Linked DNA regions of Homo sapiens. The protein of the gene in region 2 interacts with the protein of the main gene of each other region in a pairwise test. Each region holds a gene or a part of one and is shown on either strand. Other genes may lie near its edges.

Region 1 (4,725 bases), on a different chromosome or scaffold from region 2:
GTTTCAAAGGTGGGGATCCCCTACCTCGTACAGGCGCAAAGTCCCCAGGGCTCTCGGTTTTGTTGGGGCCAAAAGGGCTGATGGAGGGGAGGATGATGAGGGCAAAGGACAGCAACAGGACCTGGTGGAGACAGCGGCAGAGTCACCCCCTCCCTCCCCTCCCCTGCAAGCATCTCCATCCCACAGGCAGGGAAACTGAGGCCCCAAAGACCAGACTGGATCATACTTGAGCTGGGGCACAAGGAGAGCTTGGACTCATTGTCACCTCCCTATGGGCCCCTCTACAGAAGCCTAGGTCCCCGGCTTGCCTGGGGGCACCAGGACTCACTGCGACACAGGTGCCTGTCTGGGCTGACTTGCTGGTGGACTGCACCACAATGGCCTGGAGTTTCTTCAGTTGCTCCAAGAGGGACCTTAGAGAGACAGGCAGGCCTCCGCTGAGCCCTAAAGGGCCTCGGTTCTGCTTCTCGTCCATTTCCGGGGTCCCCCAGCCCCGCTAAAGTCCAAATTCCATCCATTCTTCAAGGGCCTCTGGCTCTTTATTATTTATTTTATTTATTTATTTATTTGTTTATTTATTTATTTATTTATTTTGAGACAGAGTCTTGCTCCATCGCCCAGGCTGGAGTGAGTGGTGGGATGGCAGCTCACTGCAAGCTCCGCCTCCCAGGTTCACACCATTCTCCTGCCTCAGCCTCCCGAGTAGCTGGGACTACAGGCGCCCACCACCACACCCAGCTAATTTTTTTTGTATTTTTAGTAGAGACGGGGTTTCACCGTGTTAGCCAGGATGGTCTTGATCTCCCGACCTTGTGATCCGCCCACCTCAGCCTCCCAAAGTGCTGGGATTACAGGCGTGAGCCACCACACCAGGCCTTATTTATTTATTTTTGAGACAGAGCCTTGCTCTGTCACCCAGGCTGGAGTGCAGTGGTGCGATCTCGGCTCACGGCAACCTCCGCCTCCCGAGTTCAAGCAATTCTCCTGCCTCAGCCTCTCGAGTAGCTGGGACTGCAGGTGCCCGCCACCACGCCTGGCTAATTTTTTTGTATTTTTAGTAGAGACGGGGTTTCACCATGTTGGCCAGGCTGGTTTTGAACTCCTGACCTCAGGTGATCCACCCGCCTCGGCCTCCCAAAGTGCTGAGATTACAGGCGTGAGCCACTGCACGCGGCCCATAGGTAAAACTCTTATTCCCTATGTCATTCTGCCATCACATGGGCTCTCTGCTCTTCCTGCAAAGGGACTCTGGGGCTGCTTCCCCTGTCCTCTGCCCCAGCTGGACCCAGACTCACAGGTTTTGCTTCTCGAGATGCAAGACTTTCCTCTGTAACTCCTGATTCTGAGCAGTGCAAGCTGACATCCTGAAAGGAGGAAGACGCATCGACATTCAGCATATGCCAGTCACCAGCTGGCCCCACTGACATCTCCCCCAGAGGCCTCACGTTACAAGCCAAGAGAACCCAAGGCCAGAGAGGGGAAGTCATTCATCCAAGGTTACTCGGCAGGTCAGACAGGGCTGGGATTTGAACCCACATCTGCCTGGTTCCTAGGTCCCATTTCTGCATTAATATGGAGGGGGCTTCATTCAAAGCTGAGCCCCCTGGATGGGTGTGGTGGTTCACACCTGTAATCCCAGCACTTTGGGAGGCCGTGGTGGGCGGATCACCTGAGGTCAGGAGTTCAAGACCAGCCTGGCCAACATGGTGAAACCCTGCCTGTACTAAAAATGCAAAATTAGCCAGGTGTGGTGGTGGGCGCCTATAATTCCAGCTACTTGGGAACTTGGGAGGCTAAGGCAGGAGAATCGATTGAACCCGGGAAGTGGAGGTTGCAGTGAGTCAAGATCGCACCATTGCACTCCAGCCTGGGCAACAAGAATGAAACTCTGTGTCAAAAAAAAAAAAAAAAAAAAAAAAGCTGAGCCTCCTAGATTCAGGCAGTGATGTTTCCAGAAGATGAAATATCAGGACAACCAGGCATCCTGGGAGACTCAAGTTTCTTTTTTTGTTTGTTTGTTTTTTGAGATGGAGTCTCGCTCTGTCGCCCAGGCTGGAATGCAGTGGCACAATCTCGACTCACTGCAAGCTCTGCCTTCTGGGTTCACGCCATTCTCCTGCCTCAGCCTCCCGAGTAGCTGGGACTACAGGCACCCGCCACCAAGCCCAGTTAATTTTTTTGGATTTTTTGTAAAGACAGAGTTTCACCGTGGTCTCGATCTCCTGAACTCGTGATCCGCCTGCCTCAGCCTCCCAAAGTGCTGGGATTACAAGTGTGAGCCACGGCGCCCGGCCGAGATTCAAGTTTCATCTCTCCCTCTCCCCATGACCTTGGGCCACTCCACTCTCTGATCTCAGCTTTTGTGTCTGTAAAATGGGATACAATTACCCAGGACATAGGGTGGTGGGGGGAATGACCCTGGATAAAGATGATCAGGAGCTTAGCAGATTGCATTTAAGAAAGGGGAGAGACCAGGCGCAGTGGCTCACGCCTGTAATCCCAGCACTTTGGGAGGCTGAGGCGGCCAGATCACCTGAGGTCAGGAGTTTGAGACTAGCCTGGGCAACACAGTGAAACCCCATCTCTACCAAAAATACAAAGAAATTAGCTGGGCGTGGTGGCCATGCACCTGTAATCCCAGCTTCTGGAGAGGCTGAGGCAGGAGAATCGCTTGAACCCGGGAGGTGGAGGTTGCAGTGAGCCAAGATCGCACCACTGCACTCCAGCCTGGGTGATAGAAGGAGACCCTTCCACACACACAAAAAGGAAGTGTCTATCTTCAGGCAGAGGGTCAGAATAGGATGGGTCACACTTTGTCCTTTTTCCGCACACCTTCTAGGGGGCAAAGGGTCCCCCAAACCCTTGTCCTACACCATCACTAGGCATCTTTCCATCCCTGCAATCAGTAAGAAGCATGATCTCTCCCAGAGAGGAGAATCACCTCCAATTTTGTCAGACTCTAAGCTGTGTGGCCTTAGCCACATCTCCTTCTCTCTGGGCCTCAGTTTCCTCCACGAGTGTAGAGTCTGGGTCCAGCACTACCCACCGAGTCTCCAGGCCATCGATATATTCCTTCTTCTTCTTCCTGCTTTCTTGCGCCGACTGCTTGTTCCGGATTTTCCGGCGGATTTTTTTCAGCACTCGCTCCTCGTACTGCCAAGTGAAATGGGGAGGAGGGTTTCAGGCCAGAAAGTCCCCACTTGGAGTCCGGGGGCAGTAGCTCTCGCCTGTAATCCCAGCACTTTGGGAGGCCGAGGCAGGCGTATCACCTGAGGTCAGGAGTTCGAGACCAGCCTGGCCAACATGGTGAAACACCGTCTCTACTAAAAATACAAAAATTAGCCAGGCATGGTGGCGGGTGCCTGTAATCCCAGCTACTCGGGAGGCTGAGGCAGGAGAATGGCATGAACCCGGGAGGCGGAGGTTGCAGTGAGCCAAGATCGTGCCATTGCAATCCAGCCTGGGCAACAAGAGCGAAACTCCATCTCAATAAATAAATAGATAAATAAATAAATAAATAAATAAATAAAATAATTAAAATTAAAAAATTAAAGTCTTCACTTTGGGGATGGTGCGACAGTCCCCACTGTCCTGACCCCACTTCACCTAACCTCGACCCCACAACTTCACCCCATCCTCTTTGCATACAAGACATCCCGGAGCCAAGGACCCAGAGGCAGATTCCTAATGACTTGAAGCTACCCTTTGCCCAAACCCTCACAGAGTCTCTGGGAGGTGCCTGGGTTCTGAGGGTCTTTTCCCAGCTCCCAATACTGTAAAATGGGCAACTGCCCACCAGACTTTGGGCATGGGTACCACTCCACCACCTTGTGGCCATCCCTGGAAACATCACCTTTCCCTGGCGACAGCAAGTGTTTTAAGACTAATTAATAATTTTTTTCTTCTTTCTTACGTTTCTTTCTTTTCTTTCCTTTCTTTTCCCCTCCCTCCCTCCCTCCCTCCCTTCCTTCCTTTCTCCCTTTCTCTCTTTCTCTCTTTCTCTTTCTCTTTCTCTCTTTCTTTCCTTTTCTTCCTTTCTTTCCTTCTTTTCTTCCTTTCTTTCTTTCCTTTCTTTCTTTCTTTTCTTTCTTTTCCTTTCTTTCTTTCTTTCTTTTCTTTCCTTCCTTTTCTCTCTCTCTCTCTCTCTCTCTTTCTTTCTTTCTTTCTTGTTTCGCTCTTGTCACCCAGGCTGGAGTGCAGTGGCAAGATCTCAGCTCACTGCAACCTCCACCCCCAGGGTTCAAGTGATTCTCCCACCCCAGCTTCCCAAGTAGCTGGGATTACAGGTGCACAACACCATGCCTGGCTAATTTTTGTATTTTTAGTAGAGACAGGGTTTCACCATGTTGGCCAGGCTGGTCTCAAACTCCTGACCTCAGGTGATCCGCCCATCTTTGCCTCCCAAAGAGCTGGGATTACAGGCATGAGACACCACACCCGGCCAATAAGTGTCTTCAAATGGGAATGTCAGGCTGGGCGCGGTGGTTCACAGTGCTGTAATCCCAGCACTTTGGGAGGCCAAGGCAAGAGGATCGCATAAGTCCAGGAGTTCAAGACTAGACTGGGCAACATTTAGTAAAGACCCTGTCTCTACTAAAACAAAACAACAACCACAAAATCAGCTGGGTGTGGTGGTGCATGCCTATAGTCCCAGCTACTTGGGAGGCTGAGGCAGGAGGATCCCTTGAGACCAGGAGTTCAAGGTTGCAGTTAGCTGCTACCTGC
Region 2 (4,725 bases):
CGGGCTGGTCTTGAACTCCTGACCTCAGGTGATCCACCCACCTTGGCCTCCCAAAGTGCTGGGATTACAGGCATGAACCACTGCACCTGGCATATTTTTTTTTTTTTTTTTTTGAGACGGAGCCTCACTCTGTTGCCCAGGCTGGGTGGAGTGCAGTAGCACGTTCTTGGCTCACTGCAGCCTCTGCCTCCCAGGTTCAAGTGAGTCTCCTGCCTCAGCCTCCCAAGTAGCTGGGATTACAGGCGCCTGCCACCATGCCCGGCTAATTTTGCATTTTTAGTAGAGATGGGGTTTCACCATGTTGGCCAGGCTGGTCTTGAACCTCTGACATCAAATGATCCACCCACCTCACCCTCCCAAAGTGCTGGGATTACAGGCGTGAGCCACCATACCTGGCACCCCTTGAACATTTTACCCAACTGTAAGACATGGAATCAAATTCTTGCAAAATGAAATATGACAAATTGATCTTTATATCCTTGTCCTGAAAGCAGCCCGTATCCCTTCCTTCAATTTCTAAGAATATGGTCCTCTTACTTATCTTAGGAGTGAGAAAAATACCTGCAGCTGTTACATCCAACAAAAAAAGGCATATTGGTTTACACGTCTACCTGCGAGACATTCCTGCAGTCCCGGAACAAGAACTCCAGGCCGTGAGGGTGGGTAGGTTCTACTGACTGACTGACATCGATCAACCAGACCTATTTCAATACAGAACATGAACTGATGTATTTACATTTTAAATTTTACTTACAGTAATTAAATCTGAATGTTAACAAAATGTGCTCCTCACCTTTCCAGCATGCCACAGCATGTTATACTCACTGAGGTCAGCATGGACAAGCGTACATTCATGATATAACTGCCGCATCAACTGTGAAGAGGGAAGGCACACATTAGGAAATGAATAATTAAGTGGTATTATTGATGATGACACCCCTGAAAGTTTTTTATTTTTTATTTTTTTGGAGACAGAGTCTCACTCTGTCGCCCAGGCTGGAGTGCAGTGGTGTGATCTCAGCTCACTGCAAGCTCCGCCTCCCTGGTTCACACCATTCTCCTGCCTCAGCCTCCCAAGTAGCTCGGACTACAGGCACCCACCACCACTCCTGGCTAATTTTTTGTAATTTTTTTTAGTAGAGATGGGGTTTCACCATGTTAGTTAGGATGGTCTCAATCTCCTGACCTCGTGACCTGCCCACCTCGGCCTCCCAGAGTGCTGGGATTACAGGCGTGAGCACTGCGCCCAGCCCCCCTCAAAGTCTTACAGTAGAAATCAACATTAATGCATTTGTTTTCCAGCCTTAATAGAATTAAATAGAAAAGTTTCATCACTATTTAATCTCTTCCCCAGCCACCCCACCTCCCAAAGAGGCCAGAAAAACATACTTGATTTTCCTTTCAATGTTTACCTTTGGAGGCAGAGAAAGGTGGATCACCTTTCTAGCTATATCTTTAAAAATTAATTTGGATTAAAATTTCCATATCTAGATCAATGGCTGCATTACATGACAGCTTCATGTGGAGATTGCATAAAGTAGCACATTAAGTTTCTCCAGTGTTCAATTAAAACACAGAGGGATAATGGCAGTATTAGGAGCATTGTCTCAACCTGGAAGGCCCTCAGATTGAATTCAGTTGCTATTTCAAAGCATGTAGTTTCCTTGAGATTCCCAACATGCCTTCCAACTTAACACCTGCACTCCCTACTGTTTTCAATTTTCATCATCACTCTCTTATGATGAGACCAGACCTGCTTCCTTTCCTTCACTGTTAAAGCTGTAACATTCAATGGCTGGGTGTGGTGGCTCACACCAGTAATCCCAGCACTTTGGGATGCTGAGGCAAGAGGATCACTTGAGCCCAGGAGTTCGAGACCAGCCTGGGCAACATAGTGAGACCCTGTCTCTTATTTGAAAAAAAAAAAAAAAAAAAAAAGCCCCAAAAAACTATAACATTCATGAAAGCTCACAAACTAATGAGGCACTTTGCTAAATGTACTAACAGCAAATTTTATTTAATGAAGTTTGGTGAAAAATAGCTTCATGCACTGTGTCACTAATCCTAACAATGACGACTTCCCTGGTTAAGTCTGTAAGTTTTCTAAAACTATTTAAGACACACACATATTGATAGAAAAACAACTCTTCAGTGTTAACATTCTTTCACAAACTTCAACTTGTCTTTGTTATAGCACCTTGAAATAGCACTATCTAAGGAACTTGGGTTTTTTTGTTTGTTTTTTAAGACATAGGGTCTTGCTCTATTTCTTGCCCAGGCTGGGGTGCAGTGGCACAATCATAGCTCACTGCTGCCTTAAATTCCTGGGTGCAAGTGATCCTCCCACCTTAGACTCCCGAGTAGCTGGGACTACAGGTGTGTGCCCAGCTAATTTTTAATTTTTTTTTTTTTTTTTTGAGACAGAGTCTTACTCTGTCACCCAGGCTGGAGTGCAGTGGTGCAATCTTGGTTCACTGCAACCTCTACCTCCCTGGTTCAAGCAATTCCCCTGCCTCAGCATCCCGAGTAGCTGGGATTACAGGCACACGCCCAGCTAATTTTTTTGTATTTTTAGTAGAGACAGGGTTTCACCATGTTGCCCAGGCTGGTCTCAAACTCCTGGGCTCAAGTGATCCTACTGCCTGAGCCTCCCAAAGTTCTAGATTACAAGTGTGAGCCAACATGCCTGGCTTCTTTAAGGAAATTTTTTTAAAGTTTAGAGGAAATATTTTTTAAAGGTAGTGTGTGAATTCTTTTAAAAGCACAACTTACATGAAGAGTTTGATAGTAGGCTTCTTTCATTTCTTCACTATTGAGCTTTACTTCTTTTAATTTAGGGGCTGGAACTTGATCATGGCCAATAAAAGACATAACTAAAATGTGTTTCTTCAGTAGTACAACTGTTGGACAAGGAATTCCAGCTCTCTGCATTCTATACATAAAGAAATGATTCAGAATATACAGATCAGAAGGAGAGAAAATATGTCATTTATTCAATAAATATCTAATCAGGGCCTGCAATGAGCTGGCACTATGTTCTACCCTGGTGATGTGGGAATACAAAGACAGTAAAACACAGCCTCTGCCCATAGAGAGCTCAGGGACTGATGGAAATGACAGACAAGAGACAATTACAATTACGCACTGGCAGAGGTATGGGTAGGAGCTACAGGAGCACACAGCACCAAGGATGGCTTATTAGAAGAAGAGGTAGGGAACAGGAATTAGCCAGATAAAGACAGTGCAAGGGAATGCAGGGAGGTGTTCAAGAGCACAGTCCATTTGGGGAATGTATATCAATCAACATAGCTGGATCTGTGAGTAGGAGGAAGGGCAATGTGGGCTGAGGCTACAAAGACAGGCAAGCTCCACTATGGAAAACTGTTGAAGAATTTTAAGAAAGGCAGGAATTTCAGGAGTACAGAAAAGAGACTGGAGGACAGCAAGACCTTCTAGAAAATGATTCTACCTGGAATTAATTAATTTATTGAAAAAACATTTTTTTTTCTTTTTGAGACAAGGTCTTGGGAGTCTAACGTTTCCAGGCTGGTTTTGAACTCCTAGGTTCAAGCAGTCCTCCCATCTCAGCCTCCCAAGTAGCTGGGAGTACACGTGCACACCATGCCTGGCTTATTTTGGTGGGGAACTCTCAGTAGAAGAATTTTGTAACTGATATATATGAATAATTACTTTTGAAAGCAAATATCTTTAGAAAATAACAAACTAAAATTAAGCTTTTAATAAATTAAGATAATAGAAAGGTTTTTAATGAGAAGGATTATTACTGAATTTCTTGGTTGACAAAACAAATTCTTTGATAGAAAATAAATTGCTTAGAAAATTCAGATACAAGTATAAAAATTAAAACAAAATGTAATTTGATTGGTAAGAACTTACTCCCACAAAATTAACAAATTAAATGCAACAAACATTTTCTGAAACAAAAAAGAAACCATTTTTTTATGCTAAGCCTAATTGGATGCTGGAAGTTTTACTTCGTGATAAAAGCAATTTAAAAATGGCATTTAGATATATGATAAAGTGTCTAAGGCAGAAAATGCCCAGATTTCCCTCAAGCTTCATTGAGGAAAGAAAAAAGAAAATGGCTTTTTCATCCTAAAAGTATGAATCGAGGTTATACACCTGGCCTTTCATTATTTCTATAAATGAATGTAAAAGAAAGCATGGATTTTTTTATCCTAATGCAAAAAGGTATTTACCCAAGATTACGTCTAGCACAATATTTTCTTTACCTTGCGAGATTGTGCATTTCTTTTTCTGCCCACATGCGGATGATCTTACGTGGATTTAGTTTACTGAAGCGATCTTTAAACCTGAAATCATCTTTAATATATTTGTCACGATTCTTAAATTCATTAAGGGTTGTTTTAAATACCTTGATGGCACATTCTGTAGGTATAACTTTACTATCTTCCTTTTCATCCTCCATGCTAAGTGGAAGAAAAAAAATCAAGTCAGTACAAGTTGCCAGCTCACAAGTACAACAATTTCAAAATAAAGATTCTGTAACACTAAATTAGATCTACCTTCTCTCAGTGTCAAGTCTTGTTTTTTTAAGCCTTTAGGTTTTGGATCTTAATAAAGCCTTAGGTTTTGGTTTGATTTTTTAAATAAAATATACTTTCAAATAAATTGTCAACCGATTTTCAACCATCTATCACATAATGTTCTTCACTTAATGACTACGGAATCAAGCTTGAAATA

Evidence for each region.
Region 1: the proteins of RIOK3 (region 2) and CREB3L3 interact in a two-hybrid assay, tested with the Homo sapiens proteins (one large-scale study listed by BioGRID and IntAct).

What each region holds. Positions count from the first base shown.
Region 1 is NC_000019.10:4,166,779-4,171,503, reverse strand, and holds part of CREB3L3 (cyclic AMP-responsive element-binding protein 3-like protein 3), read right to left. Parts: intron 3,154-4,725; coding exon 3,047-3,153; intron 1,365-3,046; coding exon 1,296-1,364; intron 414-1,295; coding exon 329-413; intron 122-328; coding exon 25-121; intron 1-24. UniProt on the Homo sapiens protein: Transcription factor that may act during endoplasmic reticulum stress by activating unfolded protein response target genes. Activated in response to cAMP stimulation. In vitro, binds to the cAMP response element (CRE) and box-B element.
Region 2 is NC_000018.10:23,473,155-23,477,879, reverse strand, and holds part of RIOK3 (serine/threonine-protein kinase RIO3), read right to left. Parts: intron 4,452-4,725; coding exon 4,254-4,451; intron 2,933-4,253; coding exon 2,773-2,932; intron 875-2,772; coding exon 794-874; intron 724-793; exon of another isoform or gene 702-723; coding exon 612-701; intron 1-611.